Linked DNA regions of Homo sapiens: all the other regions are linked to region 2. Evidence: fine-mapped expression QTL. A gene starts in region 2. Each other region holds a variant in brackets. All regions are shown on one strand. Distances are from middle to middle. Region 1 overlaps NRDC (nardilysin convertase). Region 2 holds the start of NRDC (nardilysin convertase). Region 3 overlaps NRDC (nardilysin convertase). Region 4 overlaps NRDC (nardilysin convertase). Region 5 overlaps NRDC (nardilysin convertase).

Region 1 (5,000 bases), 25 kb after region 2:
ACCTAGAAATGAAATTACTGAATGAAAAGTATTCAGAGTTTCCATTAAAAATAAAAATGGCTGTATTTCCCTACAAGAATGTGATACCATTTGAGATTCATCAGAAATGTGTGAGAATAATCTGTCCACTTATCAGCACTGGATAGCAATTGTTTTTATTTTTTGTTTAGTTAATTTGTTGGATGAAAAATATTTCATTAAGTTGATTGTCTTTTATTTCTAGTGAGATTGCGCATCATTTTATTTGACATCTTGTGTTCTTGTAATGTGTGTAGTATATATTATTATTATCATTATTATTTTTTTTTGACACAGAGTCTCCATCTGTCACCCATGCTGGAGTGCCATGGCGCAATCTTGGCTCACTGCAACCTCTTCCTCCCTGGCTCAAGTGATCCTCCAGCCTCAGACACCTGAGTAGCTGGGATTACAGGGGTGCGTCACCATACCTAGCTACTTTTTTTTGTATTTTTTGTAGAGACAGGGTTTTGCCATGTTGGCCAGGCTGTATAGCACATATTTTTAAGCTTATTTTTTAATAGGGTTTTTTTCTCTTAATGATTTGAAGGAACTCTTACATGTTGTTAGTTTTTCCTCCCAGTATGCAATTTGCTGTTTGATTTTGTTTATGATATTGTTTTATAAAAACTTAAAATTAGTATACAGTGAACTCTTTTCATTTTTTTTTTCTTTATAAGGGCTTGGATTTTTTATCTTGTTTGGTACAAATTTTCTTCACCCAAATATTATACCAATTTTTTTTTCTTAAATAAAAACATTCTTTCCTTTTAGCTCTGTTATAGAACTGAACTTGGGTCTGCTCGCCTGGCACAATAAGGACATAACCACACTGAGGTTTTGCAGCAGTAGAAAGGAAGGCATTTATTTTCAGGATGCTACGCAAAGAGGACCAGGTAGCTAATGCTTAAATCCTGACCTCCCCGATGATTTGCAGGTAAGGGTTTTTAAAGGCAGTGGTAAATTTCTGGATAGCAGAAGTTACAGACAAAATCATAAACCATACATGGAGGGTTACACACTGATTTTGGCCTAAAAGGTTGGGATATCTTGAAGCAGTGGTGTATAGGTCATAGGTACAGTAGAAGATTTTCTGATTTGCAGTTGGTTAAGGAGGCAAAGCTTTTTCTAAAAATTTGAGATCAGCAGAAAAGAATGTTAGCACTGGCTCATGGGTATAACCTTCTCCAGGCCCCTCAGAAAGAAATTTAGAACAAAGAAGGGGAGTCAGAGTTCAGTCCCCAGTTCCTCTCTATATGAGGTTGCTGTGCTGGCAGATCCTTTTGGTGTGGGCACAGGTTTCTGAAAAACAACTGGAGACATGTTAAGGTATTATCTTTAGTTTTTATAGGGAAGCAAACATTCTTGTGACTCTTAACTTCCTTGGCTATTTTTGTTGTTGTTAGAGATGGGGTCTCGCTATGTTGCCCAGACTGGTCTTGAACTCCTGGCCTCAAGTGATCCTCCCACCTTGGCCTCCCAAAGAGTTGGGATTACAGGTGTCAGCCACCATGCTGGGCCAGCTTGGCTGTTGTTACTGTTACCTGCTTGTTTATCAAGTTGCACATTTATTTTTCAGGGCTAGCTAGGTGCCTGAAGTTTCCTTTGAAATAACTGAAGATTTTCCTTTTTTCTATGCTTGGGGTCCCTGCGTCATCTCAATTCCCCATCTTTTGTCACCCATCAATCTTGTGGGGTACTGGGGTGCAGACTGCTCTGCCTACTTCCTGTTGAATTGGGGCAAAGATTGAGGACTAGGATATGAGGATATTAAGTTTCTTTTCTTTATTTTTTTGAGATGGCATCTTGCTCTGTCGCCCAGGCTGGAGTGCAGTGGCATGATCTCGGCTCACTGTAACCTCTGCCTCCTGGGTTCAAGCGATTCTTCTGCCTCAGCCTCCTGAGTAGCTGGGACTACAGGTGTGCACCTCTACGCCTGGCTATTTTTTGTATTTTTAGTAGAGACAGAGTTTCCTCATATTAGCCAGGCTGGTCTCAAACTCCTGACCTCGTGATCCACCCGCCTCGGCCTCCCAAAGTGCTGGGATTACAGGTGTGAGCCACCGCCCCTGGCTGAGGATAGTAAGTTCCTAGCACGGAATTCAAGGTATCCATGAGTCCCAGGCATGGCACCATGGTGCTGAACTGTCATTATTTGTATTAGTCACTGCTTTATTACATTTTAACACACATTTGGTTATGATATAAAGCACAAGAAAAATTAGCAAGATTGATATGCATAACTTTAGCAATCCAGAAAACATGGATTTTATTCCATGAGGAATCCAAGAAAAGAAAGAAGAAAACCAGTCCTTAGGGACAGTCAGGGAGATCTGTTGTAACCAAGTGACTTGTTCTCTAATTTATTTTAGATGAGTTTCTACCTCAGCAGATTCATTTATATAAGTATTGCATGTGGGATTTGCAACCATACACACTCCTCCCTGCTTGGCTAAGATGTAATCTAAGGCTATCCTATTATCTAAGACACCTGAGCCAATGAATTAATTCTTTTCTGCTAGACAGCTATTGCTGCTGAAGTTTCCTTAGCAAGAATTCCTAAAGAGAGAGATTTCTAATCATGTGCTCATAGGATGCCACTCCCCACCAAGGTAACAAAGTCCATCCAAAGAAATAACCCGCATCCATCTTTTTAGTACCTGGGCAAGAATAGATTTGTGGATCCCAAAGTGAGTATGTGGACTTGTTTACTTTTAATGAGTTAATTTACTTGCAGCTAAGATACGGGATTTCTGACATGTTTAGAGAGCAGACTTCTAAGGAGGGAGCAGGGCTCTTGCTCCTCTCAAGAGGCAAAATCAAGTAAGCCTTTTATATAGAGGCAGAGTCTCATTATTTCTGGCAAATTTGTTTGAAGCTTCAAGTGAAGGGACTTCCAAAATAAAGGAATTCTTTTATATAATATATATATATAT[A/T]TTTTTTTTTGGAGACAGTCTCCCTCTGTCACCCAGGCTGGAGTGCCATGTCTTGGCTCACTGCAACCTCCGCCTCCCAGGTTCAAGCGATTCTCCTGCCTCAGCCTTCCGAGTAGCTGAGATTACAGGCACACGCCACCACATCTGGCTAATTTTTTTGTATTTTTAGTAGAGACAGGGTTTCACCATGTTGGTCAGGCTGGTCTCGAACTCCTGACACCATGATCTACCCGCCTCGGCCTCCCAAAGTGCTGGGATTATAGGCATGAGCCACCGTGCCTGGCCAGGAATTCTTTTATGTAATATTCTGAAAGGGGCCCTCAGATTATGATGATTGAAGGAACTTGAGTATCATTGTTCTATTAGCTGGGTCAGATGATATATCTATAGGTTACCTGTCTTTGTCAACGTCTCAGAAATTCTAATTATAAAATTGCCCTTTTAATTTGGGAGGATGAAAGTCCACAAGGAAGCATAACAAAAAGGCAATTATATTTATAGTTCAGTGTGATCACCTGAAGTAATTAAGACTCCAGGGCAGCACACAGAATTTGCTAAGCCAGTAGTAGACAGAGAAAATAAGAAAAGTGGCCGGGCATGGAGGCTCACATAAAAAACTATAAAAAACTATATATAAAACTATTAAAAAAACTATAAATATATAAAACTATTAAAACTATATATATAAACTATAGTTTAAAACTATATAAATATAGTTTTAAGGCCTCATATACATGTTATATATAATGTATATATAGTTATAGTTATATAATTTTATATATATAGTTATATATACATACACAAATATGGCCTAAATATTAGTTTTAATTAGACTTTTGAGTATAGAGTTCTTAAAAAAATATCCTTTCAAATCTCTTACTATCAGATTTTTAGCTGGGACAAACAGTTGATATTTCTGGCTTTTGAACTCTTTTCACCCCAAAGATATTCTCCCCCATGAAACTAAGAAGCGTTAGCCAGGGTTATGACTTCAACAAGGACACATGAGGTCTCGAAAGAGGTGGAAAGCAGTTTTCACAAGATTCAGAGCTGCCCCAAAGACAGCTTAAAGAGAGGAAAATTTCGTCAGCCATAAATGGAGTACAGACCACATTTCTGTTTGGCCATATTCTCTAGAGCCTCAGTTTCTCAGCTGACCATTCACACACACAACGTGTACCAAAAAGCATACCAAAAAACCTGTAGGCTGCCCCCCTCACAGATGGAGGACAGGAAATCAAAAGCTGCCCATAGAAGGAAAAAGGAACGATAAATGGCAAAAGTCACACAAATATTAAACCAAAAAATGATGTGTTCCTTGGCTGGGAATTCAACCCAGGCAGCCTCAGTGCTTTACCACTGCTGTTCCTGGAGGGGATCTAAAGCAGGCAGTTTTGAGCTTGCAAAGGATTTTAACCTTGTTTTAGGTGAGATATTTGTTCTTTAATTTAGTCAAGTGAATTCTCAAGGCTAGTCATGACACTATTAAGTGTCCTTTGTAAAATTTGTTTAGAAAATAACTTTTTTTTGTAAAAGCAATTGTTTAGAGAGATGCCTGAGATTATTTTAAAATTTAGGGGTCCAGTTTAAAGGTTCCCCTTTTCAGGCTTTTTTCTGGAGTCTTAAAAAATACTGTGGCCAAGCACTACTGCAATTAAAAAAAAATCATTTTTTTTTTTTCCTTGGGCCCAAATCTAAAAATGGCCCAATTCTGCAGAATACACCCTAATGGGCTACAAAGGAAATAGAACTTGTGTTTCTCAAATGAAACAAAACCCTGGACAAGGCATTAAAGGTTTGTCGCAAAACCTAGGTGACAAACCTTTAATGCCTTGGCCAGGTGTTAAGTATTAAATAGATTTTCAAGCAAGTAAATCACAATCAAATTGTGATTTTTCAAGGTTTCAGTCTTCAGCTCTGGGATATCTCCCACCAAGTGCATTCTGATGAAGTAGAGCCCAATACCTTGCTGAAGCAAGGCTGGATTTCCTGCTGAAAGGAAAAATACTATGGGGCTATCACACATCAACCCCCCACTTACCAAAA
Region 2 (5,185 bases):
ATCCTATACAATTTGTCTTCATTGCATTTATTGTTTTTTGTATATGTGAGACAAAGTAGCAAACATAAGAAGCCATGTCTGCTCATTCTGTTTACCAGCAGAATTTCACAAACTCTCTTGCCAGCAGAATTTCACAGCCTCAGTGACTGCGCACAGCCCTCCAGAATACCCTGAAAATATGCAGGATAGAGCACAAGTTCCCATGTCTCTTGCCTGAATCACTGCATTTTTAGAAAAGATAAATCCAATGATGCTCGACCTTGCCTCTTCCTGTACATTTCTGACAGGATTAATGACTATGCCTCCATAATCTATAAACATGTGTACTCTTCCACCTAAACCTTCATGAGATTTTGCTCTAGTGTAACTCCTGAGTACATTTTTTCTTTTTTATTAGAGACAAGGTCTTGCTCTGTCACCAGGCTAGAGTGCAGAGGCACAATCATAGTTCACTGTAACCTCAAACTCAGGAGTCCCAGCAATCCTTTTAACTCTGCCTCTCCTGTAGCTAGGACTACAGGGATGTTCTACCACGCCTTGCTTTTTTATGTGTGTGTGGAGACAGAGTCTTGATATGTTACACAGGCTGGTTGTAAATGCCTGGCCTCAAGCAATCCTTCTGCCTCAGCCTCCTTAATCACTGGGATTACAGGCCCAGCCTTTCTGAGCACATTTGATTTAACTTCCAAGCACATGCAGAGCGGCCACCACCTGTATAGAAGCTGCGGGCTGAAACACTGCTTTGGAGCAGTCTAAAAAAAAAACTCTCTGACTCTCCCAGGTGGCAGTCCTCAATAAGACTTCTGAAGAAAGCTAACTTGAATTATTTAAAAGCCTGATTTACTTTAGTTTACATATTTTACAGTTCCTTCCCATTAGGATGCAAGCTCCCCCAAGGCAAGGCTTTAAATTTTTGTTGTCGTTGTTTAGACAGGGTCTCACTGTGTCAACCAGGCTGGAGTGCAGTGTTGCAATCACGGCTCACTGCAGCCTCGACCTCCTGGACTCAAGCGTTCCTCCTGCCTCAGCCTCCTGAGTAGCTGGGACCACATGCACGCATCACCAAGCCTGGCTAATTTTAAAAAAGAATTTTGTACAGACGGGGGTCTCACCATGTTGTCCAGGCTGGTACCAAATTCCCAGGCTCAAAGCAATCCTCCCGCTTCGGCCTCCCAAAGTACTAGGATTATAGGTGTGAGCTATCACTATCACGCCCAGCCTAAGGCAAGTTTTGTTTTGTTCATGGTTGTATTCCTTGCATTTGGAACTCAGAAGAGGCCTCGAAAACCTTGAAGATACAGTAACTATCAACACATCTCCCTGCTTCACGTCTTTCCCCGCTCATTCGTATGTATGAGCTATGATCTCTTACCCCATGGTGTCAGTATAGTGCATCTTACTAATTTCAGCTGCTTTTTAGCTTTCATTTATGTTTGTATTTCCGTCACATTTTACATTGCTAACCAAAGACCACTGCTAGCGGGAAAAACTGGGAAAGGAGACTTGAAGGCAGCAGACGCTGCAGCTGCTCGATAAAAATTGGCCGAATTTAACAGGAGGCTGGAGGAGCTAAAAAACGTTTTCACACAGAAGAGTTAGCACATCCAGACTGGTCTTTTTAGCACTTTCTTAGGGCTTGAGGATGAAACCCCACCACTGTCGGGCCGACTGTAGGGTAGAGAAGAGCCAATTAGTATTTGCGGCGCTCGGGAGCAGCGTCCATCCGGCGGGTGTAGGAAAATACTTCCGGCGTTCTGGTTTTTTATGTGCTGAGTCACAGCCGAAGGCTCGCCCCGGGTCTGAGGAGTAGGGTACCCAAACTATGACACGAATGGGAAAATTTAAAACTTTGGAATTAATTCTCTGCACTCGTTTCTCAGTTTTCTCATTAGGGGAATATTTTTCTTTGACACGCGGAGCACTACTCAGTGGTTTCCACAAAACACACTCGTACGTCATAAACGCGCCGGGGGCCCTTCTCCCGTCGTCCTCCGCGCCACTCTCTCCGCTTCTTCTCCCTCGCCCCGCCCACTTTGGGTTTCGAAATGTTCGCTGGCTGTTCCGAGAATCAGTCCGGGTCACGTTGGTGCCTCTCCTTTCCTGTTCTGATTGGTTGCTTACGTGAGCGTGACTACTTTCTTGCCTCATGATTGGCTGAAATCAGTAGCGTCATCGGCGGCCGGGAGGGCGGAGGGACGAGGGAAGTCGGCGAGAGGGAGACTGGGTTGGGGGAGGGGTTCAGGCCTGTTCCCCGCGGCTGCGGCAGCACCAGGGCCGGCCGCCACCGCCTCTAGAACGCGGAGGAGGTGGGTCCTGGGAAGCGGGATGTCCATCGCTCCAGCTTGGTGGTGAATGCTGAGGAGAGTCACTGTTGCTGCAGTCTGTGCCACCCGGAGGAAGTTGTGTGAGGCCGGGCGGGAGCTCGCGGCGCTCTGGGGAATCGAAACGCGGGGTCGGTGCGAAGACTCTGCTGCTGCCAGACCCTTTCCTATTCTGGCCATGCCTGGAAGGAACAAGGCGAAGTCTACCTGCAGCTGCCCTGACCTGCAGCCCAATGGACAGGATCTGGGCGAGAACAGCCGGGTTGCCCGTCTAGGAGCGGATGAATCTGAGGAAGAGGGACGGAGGGGGTCTCTCAGTAATGCTGGGGACCCTGAGATCGTCAAGTCTCCCAGCGACCCCAAGCAATACCGGTGAGGGAGGAGGCTTGCAATGGGGAGGCGAACAGTGTGCCGGCTTCTCTGTCGGTGCCGCCGTCACTTCTTGTCTCCATGTCTCCCAATGGAGCAACAGGGCACACTTTCCACCCCAAATGCTTCCTTGGGTGGAGGTGGCAAGCGTGATTAGAGGCTTCCCTGTGGTGTCAGCTGGGCAAGTGGGAGATCTTGGGTTGTAAGACGTCAGAATGGGAGAAGCTTTTCGAGTCATTTGAATACAGTCGCTAAAGCAAGAATGAAGGTTTCTTTGAGGAACGCAGCCTGAATGGTGAGGGAGTCTTGGTATTATGTTACCAGGAAAGGTTGACGGAGTTGGATACTTTAATTTGGAGGACAGGATATTTAAGGGGCATATTATCACTATCCAAAATATTTGAGGGACACTTAAGTGATAGGTGAAACTAGTGGACGAAAGTTACCAGAGGATGGTGTGGCTTCAGTAAAGTAACTTTGCATCATATTTGGCCTAAGTTGAAGTGACTTGTTTCCATGGGTAGTTCTCCATTACCAAAACGGTTGGGCGACCTCGTCCAGGAATATATTAGAGAGGGCTTAGGTCTCAGTTGGGTGAGTTGTAAGGTTTCTTCTAACCTTGAAATTCTCTACTTTTGGTTTGTACAGGAGTTCTCTAAACATTTCTAATAATTGGTGATTCAGTCCCCACCTGAGTATTTTCCTTCAGAGGTAGCTTATTTCATGGAGTATCATGACTATGATGTATCTTGCGTGTGTGTGTGTGCGTGTGTGTTTTAATAAGAGTCTGGGTCTTGCGATGTTGCCCAGGCTAATTTCAAACTCCTGGGCTTAGGGAATCCTCCTGTCTTGGCCTCCCAAAGTACTGGGATTACAGGCGTGAGCCACTGTGCCAGGCCTGGACTTTGATGTATTTTAAATAGAGTTCATATTGTCCAATAACTTCGTTGAACAGGTTGAGGAAATTGAGACCCAAAGAGTTTGCTTCTTGCTCTGAATCACACAGCTAAATAATAACAGAGCTGGTATGATGACCCCTACTATCTGACACCAAATTCAGTGTATCATTTGCTGATTTCCTTTTTTTTTTTGAAACGGAGTCTTGCTGTGTCACCAGGCTGGAGTGCAGTGGCGCGATCTTGGCTCACTGCAACCTCCGCCTCCCGGGTTCAAGCGATTCTCCTGCCTCAGCCTCCCCAGTAGCTGGGACTACAGGTGCTCGCCACCACGCCCGGCTAATTTTTTGTATTTTTAGTGGAGACGGGGTTTCACCATATTGGCCAGGATGGTTTCGATCTCTTGACCTTGTGATCCGCCCGCCTCTTCTCCCAAAGTGCTGGGGTTACAGGCGTGAGCCACCCCGCCCAGCCCGTTTGCCGATTTTTTACAAATTTCTTGCTTATGTGAATTGAAAGCTGAAGGATTCTAGTTCTAAATTTGTTATAAGCCCCTACAGCGTTAGCGCAAGAAACAACCTTATAGATAATCTTTTCCACTTCCCACCACACCTCTTTGACAGATGACACTTAGCTCCAAGTTCAGGACCAACCTAATTTCTCCTTTCACTTCAAGTCTAGATATATTTTCTCCAGGCTGCCAGAGTCAAGAGATCTTTATAAATGAGCTAAATTTTCTTTCTCATCAAAGATGTGATTGTACAGGTTGAGTATCCCTAATCCAAAAATCCAGAATGCTCGGAAATCCAAAACTTTATGAGCGCCAACATGACACCACAAGTGAAAAATTCCACACTTGGCACCTTTGCTTTTTGATGGTTGGTTCATGTACACAAACTTTGTTTCATGCACAAAATTATTAAAAATATTGTATAAAATTATCTTCAGGTTATGTGTATAAGGTATATATGAACCATAAATGAATTTTGTATTTATACTGCATCCCATCCCCAAGATACCTCATTACGTATACGCAAATATTCCAAAATCCAAAAAAATCCAAAATTTGAAATACTTTTGGTCCCGAGTGTTTCGGATAAAGGATACTCAACCTGTATTGGCAATGTATAAATGAGCAAGTTGAAAACTTGATAAAAGGTGCTTAGTTTTTGCCTTCCAGATCAAATGTTCAATAATGGTTTCAGGGTTTTTTCCAGCCTATATAAAGTTATATAATAACTAATATTTATGGAATCTACACTGTGTTTCAGCTACTGTTGTAACTGTTTTAGATGTGTTATTTCATTTACTGACCTCATTTTTGGTAAATTTGTTTGATAAATACCTGTTAAGTCCTACTGTGTGCTAGGCACCAAGCTAGATTAAATATTTTCTGAAACTTGGTCAAATATAATGTAATAAATAACATGTTAGTCTGGGTGAATATACAAAAATGATTGAGCCAGTACCTGCCTTTAGGGAGCTTACAATAGTAGAGAGGGACACAGACACATAAAAAAAAAAATTAGAGACTGTTGTGGTGGCTCATGCCTGTAATCCCAGCACTTGGGGGGCCGTGTTGGGAGGATCACTTGAGCG
Region 3 (5,000 bases), 52 kb after region 2:
AGGGCATGATGGTACATGCCTGTAGCCTCAGCTACTTGGGATGCTGAGGTGGGAGGATCACCTGAGCCTGGGGAGTTCAAGGCTCCAGTGAGCCGTGATGTGCCACTACACACTCCAGTCTGGGTGACAGAATTAAATAAAATTAGTTTCATTATTTAAGTCAACAGAAATTATCCAACCCATCATTAATCATACCAAGTACTGAAAAGAAAAAAAATGCCCCAATATATCTAGCAGGTAGTTAAGTTAAAAGTTACCTTATTGCAAGCAAAAGTTAAAAGTTTTTTAAAGAAGCCTGAGCAATATAGGGAGACCCTGTCTCTATAAAAAATTTAAAGATTTAAAAAAAAATGGTAGTGCACACCTCTAGTCTCAGCTACTTCGGAGGTTGAGGCAGGAGGATTGCTTGAACCCGGCAGTTTGAGGCCGCAGTGAGCAGTGATTGTGCCACTGCATTCTAGCCTGAGTGATAGAGTGAGACACTATATCCAAAAAAAAAAAAAAAAAGTTTACTAAACATTTTAGGAAATTAATTTTTTAAATCATTCTATTTTGCTGGAAAAACACCAATACACCAATCTTTGAATAATTTTTAACAATTTAATTGCATTGCTATTATGTATTTATATAAGTGGTAATTTGTATATGTAATTTGATACATCACAGTTTATATAATTAAAAATTAATTTAAAAAGCAGATGAAATTATAAGATTAACTTAAATACCAAGTCTTTAAAATTCTAATTTAACTTTTAACTGAAACGTTTTTAGTCATCTGTAAACTTGCATTGAACTAAAAAAGTAAGCTTTATATACTCTATAAAAACATGGATATACATAACATTACATAAATAGACTATCTGTGATATTACAATTTTACAAAGGAATGAATAGGAGAACATTTCCGAAAAGGCTCCTAAGGGTTGAAAATGGAAATAAAAAGGGTTGATAAACATTGGGTTAGAAATAGGTATATAGGTAATAAAACTATAAAGAAAAGGAGAGAAATTACTGCTATACATTCAGGATATTTCTTGAGGTAAGGGTAGGAGCTGGGTGCTTCTAGAGTGTTGACTATGGTCTGTTTCTTCACCTGGGTGGGCCACTCAGGTGTAGTTTATATGTTCATGTTTTGTTAACTTTTCTGTATGATTGTTATTAAATATATTTCACAATGAAAAAGTTAAAGTAACATGTAGATATTAGTTTAAAATATAGAAATGCAGATTATTTAGATTTTATATACTTAGGATTGTGAATTAAATCTCCAACTTAGTAAGTTTCTTAATTAAAATAATAGATGTTGATTGATGAAAGTGAACAAAAACGGAAATGCCAGTTTTGTTTTTTGTTCAGATGGGCGCAGTTCTTCATCCACCCACTAATGATCAGAGATGCAATTGACCGTGAAGTTGAAGCTGTTGATAGTGGTAAGAGGAGTACTTTATGTGTAACTACAGTTTTTTCCTTCATGAAACCAGTTACTTATTACATTTATCCTTCTTTATCTCTAGACCATTTTATCTTTATATTTTAAAGGACTAAATTGAAATATGTGTTATGTTTGTTCCTGAAGTCATTAAACATCTAATTCAGTGTAGATTTGAAGTAAATGAAAAGGATGGTGGATTTTAGTTTTTTCATCCTTTGTTTTTCGAAGGTTTTACCATAGGGGCTAATCTTTTGAGATTCAAAGATTGAAGACTATAAAGGAAAAGAATGTGCTTATATAGGGTGAGGCTTCATTATAGATCTGTGCTATAAATATTCCTTAATTACATAGTACCAATAAATATCACCATTGTATATTATCCCTGCTTGATTTATTTAAGTATTAGAAGCATTTAATACTAGACTTGAGGGGACTTCCAGTTCATATAGGTTAGGCTTGGCTTATAGCCACTGCAAGTCTCTGTATTTGTTCCACTTTTTGTAGTATTTCCCTCCTTGGTTTGATGCAGTGTCTAGTTCTAATAATGATGTAAAGCATTTACTAGGCTGAGTAAACTACAGATGGCTAGAGTGATCTATCTGGAAGTCAACAGACCCCTGTTTAACTTACAGAAGTGTCTAGCTGTGGCATTCAGTTTATTTGTAAAAAAGGATGGAATGGTTAAGCTCCTCCTAGCTGTAGTAGCTCCTTGGAAATCAAGGATTTATTTTCTTTATTTTTTTACTTGCCTACCACAGTGTCTGTTTTACCTTAAACCCAGTTAAATACCTGTTGAATGGATGAAAAAACAAAACAACTAAGGATAACTAAAAGCACTTTTCATATTTTGAGACTCAAGAACTGTTATCTGTGTCTTAAATGCTTTCTA[G/A]TATGTTTTTCTTTATACAGTTTCTAGAGTGGGTTGACACCAGTGTTTAAACAAGCAGACCTTTAATTAGATTTTACAATTTTAAGCCAGAATATATTTTATTATGCTTTGAAAAATTATGCTGAAAGAAATATATATGTATATACACACACAGTATGGAGTTTTGGTTTATGCTGAACTAAAGTAAAAATTCTGTTGTGCTTTTGTTCATGATCTGCCTGCTTCGGCCTCCCAGAGTGCTGGGATTACAGGTGTGAGCCACTGCGCCCGGCTGATAAATTATTTTTAATAATTGACTTTTTATTTTAATGATGGTTTATACTCACATAAACATATATAATTGCCTGCATAGTATGTCTTAGTGATTGAGATGAAAGGCATGTCCAATGCCTTTTTAAATCTTAATTATGTGTCAAAGTGCAGTCTCTATTTTTATTTACTTACTTCTTCATTTTTAATGTTTGTTTCCTTTCCAAATATGGTCTCTAAGTGTTCAGATATTTATACTCTATTTTTATCAGTTGCAAGGGGTCTTAAATCACTTTTCGTAGATATGTTTACATGTCTGCTATATTACCTGTTATTGCAGAAACATGGTGGCTTAAAATAAAACATTTATTTTCTTACAGTTTTGGAGGAATGGAATCAGGTACGTTAGATAACTTCCTCAAGGTTGTTGAGCTTAGTGTCAGAACTGCAGTTCTAGCGGTTTTTAGTCCATTTGGGCTGCCATAATGGAATCCCACAGACCGGGTGGCTTATAAACCACAGAATTGTTTCTTACAGTTTTGGAGGCTGAGAAGTCCAAGATCAAAGAACTGGCAGATTTGGTGTCTGGTGACAGCCTGCTCTCTGGTTCATAGAAAACTGCCTTCACTCTTTGTCCTCATACAGCAGAAGGGGCAAGGGAGCACTCTGAGGTCTCTTTTACAAGGGACTAATCCATTCATGAGGGCTCTGCCCTCATTACCTAATCATTTCTCATTGGCCCCTACCTCCAAATACCATCACATTGGGGATTAAGTTTCAACATAGAAATTTTGGGTGGGGGGACACAAACATTCAGTCTTTAGCGGTAGCTAAAGGTATTTCTGACTTCAAAGTGGATTGTTCTTAGCCATCATACTTTATTACCAACATAGTTGGTTTTGGAAGAAATTTAAACAATATATATGACCAAATTCCCAGATAAAAGGATTAATATTTTATTAGCATTTTCATCAGTAAAATCTTGTACATAGCATCCTAGAGCTGAAACTTTCAGATTATTAACTACCTTGTGTTTCATTTGAAAAATAAGAGTAAGACTCTGGTAAGCTGAATTGATTTACCCAAAATTACAGGTCATATTAAGTCATAGAGCCAGGCCTGGATCATTGAGTTTCCCACTTCAGTCTTATAACACGTGATTCATGAAGTTAATTTTGTTAATTCCTTGCTTTCTGTTCTGTAAGTTTGAATTTCCATATAATAAAGGAGATACTGAATTTTGTTTTATTATGTGTTTATTTAAAATTGACAGAATATCAACTTGCAAGGCCTTCTGATGCAAACAGAAAGGAAATGTTGTTTGGAAGCCTTGCTAGACCTGGACATCCTATGGGAAAATTTTTTTGGGGTAAGATACTAAATACATCATCTTATTTCATATTTTCTAGTTAAGATTTAGAATAAGAAAAGTTGATAAAGAATTGAAAATTATAAAGCTAGAGTCCCTAGGTACCTTTTACCTTTTAGGATAGCTAGTTAGCCTTTCAAACGCGAAGTTGTTAAATATGCCTCTATTTGGTTCTCTAACAGTGAATATAGCAAGAGTAACACCTAACATTTTGTGAATGCTTTTTAAGTGCCAGATACTGTGCTAACACTACATGAATTATTTCATTTGATCATTATCACAATGTTCAGAGATAGGTACCATTATCATCTCCATTTAAAGATAAACAGGTTTAGGCCAGGCGTGGTGGTTCACACCTGTAATCCCAATGCTTTGGGAGGCTGAGGTGGGAGAATCACTTGAGACCAGTTCAAAACCAGCCTTGGCAACATAGTGAGACCCCATCTCTATTTTAAATTTCAGTCAAGTTATCTCATTTGTTTAAATCACACAGATAGTAAGTGGTGGATGTGAGATTTGAACATCTGTTTATCTGATTATAAAGTCTGTGCTCTACCTCAGCCTGACATTTCCATTTGTCAACAGAGTTAGCAATAGTTTCTGTAAGAGTTTTTGAACTGCGACTTAATTTTGTTCATCTAGTAAACTGTTTAACTGGTGTCTGTTTTTCATAATGGCATTTTCTTAGTGGGAGGATTTAGTTACAGCCTCATATTAATCCTGTTGACTATAGAGTAAAATTTAGGATGAGATGATCTGAATTATTCTTTAAAGGGTGTTTTGTTTCCCTGTATATTTCTGTACAGTTATATACATTTTATAGGGCATTCTTGCTTCATGTGTTTTATTTTTAAGAATTAGATAGCCGGGCGCGGTGGCTCACGCCTGTAATCCCAGCACTTTGGGAGGCCGAGGCGGGTGGATCATGAGGTCAGGAGTTTGAGACCAGCCTGGCCAAGATGGTGAAACCCCGTCTCTACTGAAAATACAAAAATTAGCTGGGTGTGGTGGCTCATGCCTGTAGTCCCAGCTACTTGGGATGCTGAGGCAGGAGAATCGCT
Region 4 (5,000 bases), 80 kb after region 2:
CTTAAAATGCTTCCTTCTTTTTCTTTTAGCTACTGTTTCAGCTCATTATTGACTACTTAGCTGAGTTCAATTCCACACCAGCTGTCTTTACAATGATAACTGAGCAGTTGAAGAAGACCTACTTTAACATCCTCATCAAGCCCGAGACTTTGGCCAAGTGGGTATAAATGAGATGAGCTTATATTTTGAGGACCTGAAAGTATTACTCTCCCTAGTGGGTGGGTGTGGGGGTTAAGGCTATAGTTGCAGTGCTAATTTTCATCCGTGTTTGAATCGTGCTCTAGTTTAGGAGACCCGTGCATAGCGTTACGGTATTTCTAAACCCAGCTTATGTAGCTAGCTGTGAATGGGACTGAAAGCAGCTTACTGTAGAGACTAAAAGTAAGGAAGGGTGTTTTCACCAATCATTATACCTGAATGTTAAAGAAGTGCTAGTTTTAGGCCGGGCATGGTAGCTTATATCTGTAATCCCAGCACTTTGAGAAGCTGAGGTGGGAGGATCACAAGCCTAGAAGTTCAAGACTAGCCTGGGCAATATAGCAAGACTTCATCTCTACAAAAAATTAAAAAATTAGCTGGGTGTGGTGGCACATGCCTGTAGTCCCAGCTACTTGGCAGACTGAGGTGGGAGGATTGCTTGAGCCCAGGAGGTTGAGGCTGCAGTGAACCATGATCATGCCACCGCACACCAACCTGCATGACAGAGATAGACCCTGTCTCATAGAAAAACAAACAAAAAACAAACCAGAAGAAGTATTTACTGGTGATTTTAGTATGTTGGTGATTAGTAGCTGAGTTAAATTGCTAAACATGTCACTTATCTAGCAATCTTAACTATCCAGAATTCAGCCAAGCTTCCAGAAGAGAGCAGAAAGGCAGCTACACAGTCTGTATGCTAATACTTAAACCCTCTGCTCACAGGCAACCCCCTTGGGCCTTCATTCAGAGCCTGTTCTTACTACTTTAGTCCAGGGCTAATTGTAGCCTGTAGGATACTTTTGCGTGAATCAGAAAAAAGTATCCTTCTGAGGTACCCTCTATTAGCAGGTAGAGCCTTTGTGGGAGGGAGAGAAAAGTCCTCTGAACAGACCTACCCCTTTGTGCACATGACTGGCTAGCCCCTACTTGACAGTTTTGCCCTGGGCATCTATAAATAGTGAACAGCGTAAAGGTTCTGCTTTTGACACAGCTGTAATGAACCCATCAGTTTCCAGAATTAGAAAGAAGGGGTTAGGAATCAGTCATGTAATAACTGATATTCTGATCACAGAAAGTTACAAAAACTAATAACTAGATATATGTTAGAAAGGACATGGACACAGGGAGGGAACATCACACACCAGGGCCTGTTGGGGGGTGGGGGTGCTGGGGGAGGGATAGTGTTAGGAGAAATACCTAATGTAAATGACGAATTGATGGGTGCAGCAAAACTAACATGGTACATGTATACCTATGTAACAAACCTGCACATTGTGCACATGTACCCTAGAATTTAAAGTATAATAATAAAAAAAGGAGAGTTATCTGCAACCATTGATACGGTGAATAGCCCTGCCAATAACTCATGAATACTACTTTATTTATTTATAAAAATACATTATTAAACACAACCTTCTATTTTATTAAAATTCAACTCCTGAAATTTACTTTATAAAAGAATAATAATAAACCTGTTTGTTGAAGATTTTTGTGCTAGATCTAAGAACTGTTATATAAATTCATTAATTCAATTCTATCCAAAACGGTTACCTCTCACGAATACTTCCCCTGTTTTACAAATGAAGAAATTGAATCATAGATGTTAGTAGATTTGTCAAATTCAAACAGCTTATTTGGGGTGGGGTTGTGGAAATGGGGGATGAAGTTAATCTGATTCTGGACCAGAGCCGTTACCTGTATTATATTGTCACTGCAGTAATAGATATCCCAAATGATGGCTTCTAGTAATTAATGAAATATTAGTGAGATTTCAAACCAAAATAGTAATAATTTTAAATCAGTGTACAACTAAGTAAACTTGACTCATCTGGCAGCTTTACTTTTATGTGAAATATTTTACCCTGCAACTGAGACAGGTAAGTGCATTTTTGTACTGCTAAGTAAATTTGTTTAAAGTTTGTGTATGTGGTTTTCAGTACTTTTTTGGTTAATCTGATACTGTTTTCCCATCTTACATTGTGATAAAAATGGTCTCTCTTTAGAAACACATCCTTTATAGAACTTTGACCAAACATTTCTTTATTCTGAAGATTCATTTCTAATAACAAAACTTTGAGTGTTTTTTTTCTGCCCTCTGTACAGAGATGTACGGCTTTTAATC[T/C]TGGAATATGCCCGTTGGTCTATGATTGACAAGTACCAGGCTTTGATGGACGGCCTTTCCCTTGAGTCTCTGCTGAGCTTCGTCAAAGAATTCAAATCCCAGCTCTTTGTGGAGGGCCTGGTACAAGGGAATGTCACAAGCACAGTGAGTGTGAGATGCTCTGTAGGCCAGGTCTGAATGCAGTTGTGAACTCTGGAATTGCCATAGTTCTTTCCTAAAGGGGAAGCTGTAGTTTTGGCAGGCCAGCATTATCATATTCTGTTTAGAAGGGAACCTGACCCCTCTGATGCTGGGCAGCTTTCTTCTTAAGATGAAGACTGCTGGGCTGGGAATGATGGCTCACGCCTGTAATTTCAGCATTTTGGGAGGCCAAGGCAGAAGCATTACTTAAGGTCAGGATTTCGAGACCAGTCCAGGCAACACAGTGAGAACTCATCCCTACAAAAAATAAAAAATTAGCCAGGCATGGTGGCACATGCCTATAGTCTCCGCTACTTGGGAGGCTGAGGTGGAAGGATCATTTGAGCCCAGGAGTTTGGGGCTACAGCATGCTATGATTGCACCACAGTATTCCAGCCTGGGCAACAGAGTAAGACCCTGTCTCAAAAGAAAAGAAATAAAGAAAGAGAGAGAGAAAAATAGATTGCTGGTAATAGACTAGGATTTTGAGTGAAATGGGTTTGGCGTATCTATACTGTTTGTTACCTTTGTTGAAGATTGTATGTGGAAACCATGAACAGTTTAGTATAGAGGCTAAAATGGGAGGAAGGAAATGGTGAGGGATGTGTGTGCATACATACGGATACATACATAGATACATACATACATAGCCAGAACTAGTATGTCAAGCCTGTTTGTGAAGCTAAGGTGCTGGGCTTTATCCTGTAGAAATGGAGAACCATTAAAGGATTTAAGAAGATTTGTGGTTAAGAAATATCCAGAGAGACAAGTTATGAAGCTGTTTTAAAGTACAGATATGATTCCACTCATAGGAGTTATCTAAAGTAGTCAAATTCATAGAAGCAGAAAATATAATGGTGGTTTCCAGTAGTTGGGGAGAAGAGGGAAGAGACAAGTTATTTTATGGGTACAGAATTTTGGTTTTGCAAGATGAAAAAGTTCTGAAAATCTAATCTACTGCACAACAGTGTGAATATAGTTAACATTATTGAACTGTACCCCTTTTTTTTCTGAGACAGAGTCTCGCTCTGTCACCCAGGCTGGAGTCCAGTGGCGTGATCTTGGCCCAACTGCAACCTCCACCTCTTCGGTTCACGCCATTCTCCTGCCTCAGCCTCCCAAGTAGCTGGGACTACAGGCACCTGCCACCTCACCCAGCTAATTTTTTGTATTTTTAGCAGAGATGGGATTTCACCGTGTTGGCCAGGATGGTCTCGATCTCCTGACCTCGTGATCTGCCCACCTCGGCCTCCCAAAGTGCTGGGATTACAGGTGTGAGCCACCGTGCCTGGCCCTGAACTGCACACTTTTAAAAATGGTTGAGATTGGCCAGGCGCGGTGGCTCACGCCTGTAATCCCAGCACTTTGGGAGGCCGAGGTGGGCGGATCACAAGGTCAAGAGATCGAGACCAACCTGGCCAACATGGTGAAACCCCGTCTCTGCTAAAAATACAAAAATTAGCCGGGCTTGGTGGCACATGCCTGTAGTTCCAGCTACTCGGGAGGCTGAGGCAGGAGAATTGCTTGAATCCGGGAGGCGGAGGTTGCACTAAACTGAGACTGTGCCACTGCACTCCAGCCTGGGCGACAGAGTGAGACTCCTCGTCTAAAAAAAAAAAAAGTTGAGATTATAAACTTTATATTATTTTATCAAAATAAAAAGCTGGAGTGAAGGCTGTGCAAGGCGGCCCACGCCTGTAATCCCAGCACTTTGGGAGGCTGAGGCAGGCAGATTGCTTGAGGCCAGGGATTCAAGACCAGCCTGGCCAACATGGTGAAAACCTGTCTCTATTAAAAATGCAAAACTTAGCCAGGTGTGGTGGTGGGCATCTTGTAATCCCAGCTTCTTGGGAGGCTGAGGCAGAAGAATCACTTGAGCCTGGGAGGCAGAGGTTGCAGTGAGCCGAGATCACGCCACTGCACTCCAGCCTGGGTGACAGAGTGAGAGTCTGTCTCAAAAAAAAAAAAGAGTTGGGAGTGAAAAATATTGAAGCCTGATGTTAGGCCAAATAAATGAAAAATAATTGCTTAAGGCTGGACATGGTGGCTTATGCCTGTCATCCCAGTACTTTGGGAGGCTAAGGTGGCAGAATCGCTTGAGCTCAGTAGTTTGAGACCAGCCTGGGCAACATAGTGAGACACCACTTCCAAAAAAATTAAAAAAAATTAGCTGGGTGTAGCAATGCACACCTGTAATCTCAGCTACTTGGGGGCTGAGGTGGGAGGATTGCTTGAGCCCAGGAAGTGGAGGCTGCAGTGAGCTGAGGTCATGCCACTGCCCTCCAGCCTGGGCAATAAAGCAAGACCCTGGTGTTTTTTTTTGTTTGTTTAAAGAAGTGCTTAAGAAATAGAAGATGATGGAAATTCACTCAGTGGGAGTGAGAGAGAAGGCAGTCTAGAATGATGCCCAGATTTCTTTCTTGAAGCAGTGGGTTGGTGGAACAGGAACAGTAGTAAGAGTGGGAGCATATGAGGAGTTTGTTCTGATACGTATTTAGTT
Region 5 (5,000 bases), 35 kb after region 2:
TAAAATATCTTTGTATCTCTAGTTTTTCTCCTTTCCCCAGATATATACATTACCATTCCATTTGATTTGTGTACTTTTAGTTCTGTTGTTGTAACTTTATATGCATTTAATGGATACATGTTGTACACATAGCTTTCTTTTTTTTTTAAATTAGGTGTTAGATTTTGTCTCATTTTGTTTCATTAAGTAGATATTAAGTACCTACTATGTATCAGGTCCCCTCCAGGCGTTAACATTCTTTTGTTTATTCAATATCTGTTTATTAAATGTTTGGTATATATATGCCTGGTGTTGTCCCAGGATATAGCTGTGAAGGAAAGAAAAGCTCTGTCCTCAGAGATAACATTCTAATGGTGCAGGCAGAAAATAAAATCAAGTAATGATAAATGGTGCGAAGAAGGTTAAAGTAGGATAAAAGAGAATAGAAATGGGCGAAAGAGCTATTTTAGGTAGTGTGGTCAGAGAAGGCATTTCTGAAAACGGGACATTTCTTTTCTTTTCTTTTCTTTTTTTTGTGACGGAGTCTCGCTCTGTCGCCCAGGCTGGAGTGCTGTGGTGCAATCCTGGCTCACTGCAACCTCCGCCTCCCGGGTTCGAGTGATTCTCCTGCTTCAGCTTCCTGAGTAGCTGGGACTACAGGCGTATGCCACCACACAAGCTAATATTTGTATTCTTAATAGAGTCGGGTTTTCGCCATTGTTGGCCAGGCTGGTCTTTAACTCCCGACCTCAAGTGATCTGCCCGCCTTGGCCTTCCGAAGTGCTGGGATTACGGGTGTGAGCCACTGCGGCCGGGCCAAAAGGAGACATTTCATGAAAGACTTGAAAGAGGTAGAGCAGTCGGGCACATACTTTATCTGGGTCAAGGGCCCCTAAGGCCAACAGAACAGCAAGCACGAAGGCCCTGGACTGAGAGTCTGTTGGCAGTGTTTAGGAAACAACAATAAAGTCATTTGTTTAGAGCAAACAGAATGAAGGAAGAGTAGTGGGAAAGAAGGTTGGAGAGGTAAATGAGAACGAGATTATGTTGAGCATTGTATAGGCCATGGTAAGGATTTTGGATTTTAAGTATGATGGGAAGCCAATGATGAATTTTGAAAAGGGAAATGGCCTTGTATTAATTTGCTAAGGCTGCCATAACAAAATATCAAAGACAGAGTAGCTTAAATAACAGCTCTGGGGTCTAGAAGTTCAAGATCAAGCTGTCAGCCTATTTGGTTTCCTTCCTTCCTTCCTTCCTTCCTTCCTTCCTTCCTTCCTTCCTTCCTTCCTTCCTTCCTTCCTTCCTTCTTTCCTCCCTCCCTCCCCCCTCCTCCCCTTCCCCCCTCCCCCCTCCCTCCGTCCCTCCCTTCCGGAATTCCTTTCTTCCTGAGTCTTGCTCTGTCGCCCAGGCTGGAGTGCAGTGGCGCCATCTCGGCTCACTGCAGCCTTCGCCTCCCGGGTTCAAGCAATTCTGCCTCAGCCTCCCGAGTAGCTGAGACAGACTACAGGCACGCGCCGCCATGCCTGGCTAATTTTTTTGTATTTTTAGTAGAGACGGGGTTTCACCATGTTGGCCAGGATGGTCTTGATATCCTGACCTCATGATCCGTCCTCTTCGGCCCTATTCGGTTTCTTCTGAGGCCTTTCTGGCTTGCGGTTGGCCTTCTCCTTGGTATCTCCTCACATGGTCTTTTCTCTGTGTGCACACATATCTGGTGTACCATCGTGTTTCCAAATTTCTTCATTTTATAAGGATACCATTCAGATTGGATTCAGACCTACTTTAGAGGCCTGATGTTTAGCTTAATTACCTCTTTAAAGGCCCTGTCTCTAAATACAATCACATCCTGAGGTAGTAGGGTTTAAGGATTCAACATAGGATTTTGGGGGGAACACATTTCAGCCCATAGCAGGGCTCATTTGCTTTACTTAGCCTGCTGAGAATTGACTTGAGGTGTGTTGGGGCGTCGGGGGATGGTGGTGGTGGAGGCGAGTATAGCCAGGGTATTGAGGTTAGAATGGAAACAGAGAGTTAGGAGGAGATTAGACACGATGACAACATGCTCTAAGGAAATAGCTGTAGAGTTGATGAGAAGTTATCAGAATTGTGATTTATTTTGAAAGTAGAATGCATAGGATTATTTTGATAGTAGATTTTTAGATTTTTTCTGTTCTGTTTATGAAAAATTTAAGCTGGAAAAAAAATGCACCTTACAAAGACCAAGTAAAGTTCCCCTTCCCTGGCTTTTTTTTTTTTTCCCCCAACCTGAGTTGGTATCTGATACAGATATTGGGACTACCTCAAACTGCTTCTCTATGATTCTGCATCTCTGAGATTCATCTTAGAATTTATTTCTGGACAGATTGTTCATATTCTTGGAAAATAGCTCTTGGATTTTAACTTGTCCTGCTGTTGGGTTGTGTAAGGGAGGAAAATAATTTTTTTCAACCCTCATAAGTTATTATTTGGAATGGTCCCCTGTAACAAAAGAAAAACAAATATAAGTTTGTTAACATGTATAATTCATAAATACATGGGAGATACTCAGAATGAGTTGGCTTTTAATTCCTGCTTATATAGTATCTTCAACAAATGTTTAGCAAAGTGTCAAGACAAAGAAAAAGGACTTTGAGTCTGTAGGGGCAGCAACTTGTAGAAAGGCAAATAATGGCAGGCAAAGCATAATTAGTAAACTTGTTAATGTGGATTCCTTTGGTGTCGTATCCAGACCAATACAGGTGTAAAGTTGTATTTGGTGGTTAACTTGTGTTCTTCCACGGTAAACAGGGGTTGGGTTTTTTTTTTTTTTTTTTAACCTTTTTTGTCTTTGGAGTAAATTTATGTCTTGCTTTTAGGCAAGTGGATAGCAGAGAGCTTTCCTGCATCTGCTTTTTAATTGCCTTCAGTTCAACAATCCTTATGCCAAGGAGGCATATTTAGAGGTGGCATATTGCTGTCTACTTCTGGTGGTCTTGAACATTTTAATCCCTCTGTATCCTTACATGTTGCCCTGCCCTCCCACCCCAACAAGTAGTTAGCTTTTTTTTTTTTTTTTTTTTT[TG/G]AGACAGGTTTTTGCTCTGTTGCCCAGGCTGGAGTGCAGTGGCATGAACGTGGCTCACGGCAACTTCCATGTCCCGGGCTTAAGCCATCCTCCCACCTCAGCCTCTGGAGTAGCTGGGACCATAGATACACCATGCCTAGCTAATTTTTGTATTTTTTTTTGTAGAGATGGGGTTTTGCCATGTTACCCAGGCTGATCTTGAACTCCTGGACTCCAGCAATCTACCTGCCTCGGCTTCCCAAAGTGCGGGGATTATAGGCGCAAGCCACTGTGCCCTGCCCTGTTTTGCATTTTGTGTTTATCATTCTTTTGCTTAAAAAAAGTTGGATATATATGTATACCTAAATAATATACTGTTTACTTTTGCTTGTTTTTTGGCATTATGTGAATGGTACTCATATAGTATTTTTTTGTGATTTGCTTTTTTCACTCATGTTTTTAAGATTAACCACTGTCGTAGTTTGTTGCTGAATTCTGTATTTCCCTGTGTTACAATATTCCACTGTGAAGAAAATTTTCATTATATGAATATACCACAGTTTTTTTATTCTGCTGTCAGTAGACTTGGATTGCTTCCAGTTTACATAATTGAGCTTATTGCCCTGAGGCTCTCTTTGCTCTTATTTATTGATCTGAAGCTTAGACTTTTTCTAGGGTTTCCTGGGAAGAACCAATATCTTACTACATGTTTATAGGTCTGTGGTTTTCTCCATTAATCTGATCAAATTTGCATGTCTTCTAATGATTTCTAAAAATTTGTAATCTGCTAACAGTGTCCTTTCCTGTTTTCTGTCTGTCATGATTTTATTTTCAAAAACCAAAAAAAAAAAAACCAAACATTTTTTCTATCACTTAAATGTGATTATTTTTTATTATTTATTTATTAATTTTTGGGACAGGGTCTCATTTTTCACCCAGACTGGAGTAAAGTGGCCCGATCTGGGCTCGCTGCAGCCTGGACCTCCTGGGCTCAAATCATCCTCCCAACCTCAGCCTCCTAAGTAGATGGGACTACAGGCGCATGCCACCATGCCAGGCTAATTTTTTGTATTTTTTGTAGAAATGAGGTTTCGCTACGTTGCCTGCTGGTCTTGAACTCCTGAGCTCCAAATGTGATTATTTTATATGGAAAGTAGATAAATCCCAGTGTTCAGTCTTCCATCTTAGGCCAAAGGTTCTCTTCCTTGTCTTTCTTTGCATGTTATTCTTAGTTTTTGCTTGACTTTTTAAGTGTACCTTGTCTTAGACGCCTTCCCTGACTGCTTGTTTCTTACATTCTGTATTTATCTCTGTCATTCTGTATTATACTGGCTCATCTCATTATTAGACAGTGAATGCCTGATGATGAGGAATTTTGTTTTATCCTTTTTATCCTTAATGCAGCATGATATCTGATATGTAAAGGGTGCTAAATAAATGTTTATTGAATAAATACATGAAAAAATTAGTATAAATGGGGCTGAATGCGATGGCTTATGCCTGTAGTCCCAGCACTTTGTGGGGCCAAGATGGGTGGATTGCTTGAGCCCAGGAGTTCAAGACCAGCTTGGGTAACATGGCAAAACCCTGTCTCTAAAAAAATACAAAAATTAGCCAGGTATGGTGGCCTGTGCCTGTGATCCCAGCTACTCTGGAGACTGAGGTGGGAGGATTGCCTGAGCCCAGGTGGTCGAGGCTGCAGTGAGCTGAGATCGTGCCACTGCACTCTAGCCTACACAACAGAGTGAGACCTTGTCTCAAAGAAAAAGGAAAAAAAAAATTAGTGTAAATGGGAGTGGTCTGTAATAGATACCTAGTCATCAAACTGGCACAGTAGTTTTGCAGATAAGAATCAGGAGCTTGAGATGGTGGCACATGCCTGTAATCCCAGCCACTCAGGAGGCTGAGGTGAGCTGCTTGAGCCCAAGAGTTTAAAATCAGCCTGGGCAGTAAAGCAAACTCTGTCTCAAAAAAAGCA

Evidence for each region. PIP is the estimated chance that this variant, and not a neighbour inherited with it, causes the effect.
Region 1: its variant is fine-mapped to the expression of NRDC in T cells (TOPMed, PIP 0.98).
Region 3: its variant is fine-mapped to the expression of NRDC in whole blood (TOPMed, PIP above 0.99). The same link has a PIP of 0.9 or more in lung, tibial artery and tibial nerve.
Region 4: its variant is fine-mapped to the expression of NRDC in whole blood (TOPMed, PIP above 0.99).
Region 5: its variant is fine-mapped to the expression of NRDC in whole blood (INTERVAL, PIP above 0.99).

What each region holds. Positions count from the first base shown.
Region 1 is chr1:51,851,181-51,856,180 of GRCh38, reverse strand. The region is part of intron 1 of NRDC (nardilysin convertase); the gene reads left to right. Among named protein-coding and RNA genes, the nearest start is that of MIR761, 17 kb to the right of the region's middle. The variant A/T (reference allele first, on the strand shown) is at 2,955.
Region 2 is chr1:51,875,783-51,880,967 of GRCh38, reverse strand. It overlaps NRDC (nardilysin convertase), which reads left to right and starts at 2,241. Exons shown (of 31, transcript NM_001101662.2): 1 at 2,241-2,693. The coding sequence starts at 2,353. RefSeq lists silencers at 1-196, 2,154-2,203 and enhancers at 950-1,503, 1,894-2,073, 1,957-2,251, 3,920-4,451.
Region 3 is chr1:51,824,226-51,829,225 of GRCh38, reverse strand. NRDC (nardilysin convertase) reads left to right here. Exons shown (of 31, transcript NM_001101662.2): 5 at 1,357-1,430; 6 at 3,844-3,939. Among named protein-coding and RNA genes, the nearest start is that of MIR761, 9.7 kb to the left of the region's middle. The variant G/A (reference allele first, on the strand shown) is at 2,322.
Region 4 is chr1:51,795,713-51,800,712 of GRCh38, reverse strand. It overlaps NRDC (nardilysin convertase), which reads left to right. Exons shown (of 31, transcript NM_001101662.2): 21 at 30-157; 22 at 2,302-2,464. Among named protein-coding and RNA genes, the nearest start is that of MIR761, 38 kb to the left of the region's middle. The variant T/C (reference allele first, on the strand shown) is at 2,321.
Region 5 is chr1:51,841,107-51,846,106 of GRCh38, reverse strand. All of the region lies in intron 1 of NRDC (nardilysin convertase), which reads left to right. Among named protein-coding and RNA genes, the nearest start is that of MIR761, 7.2 kb to the right of the region's middle. The variant TG/G (reference allele first, on the strand shown) is at 3,043.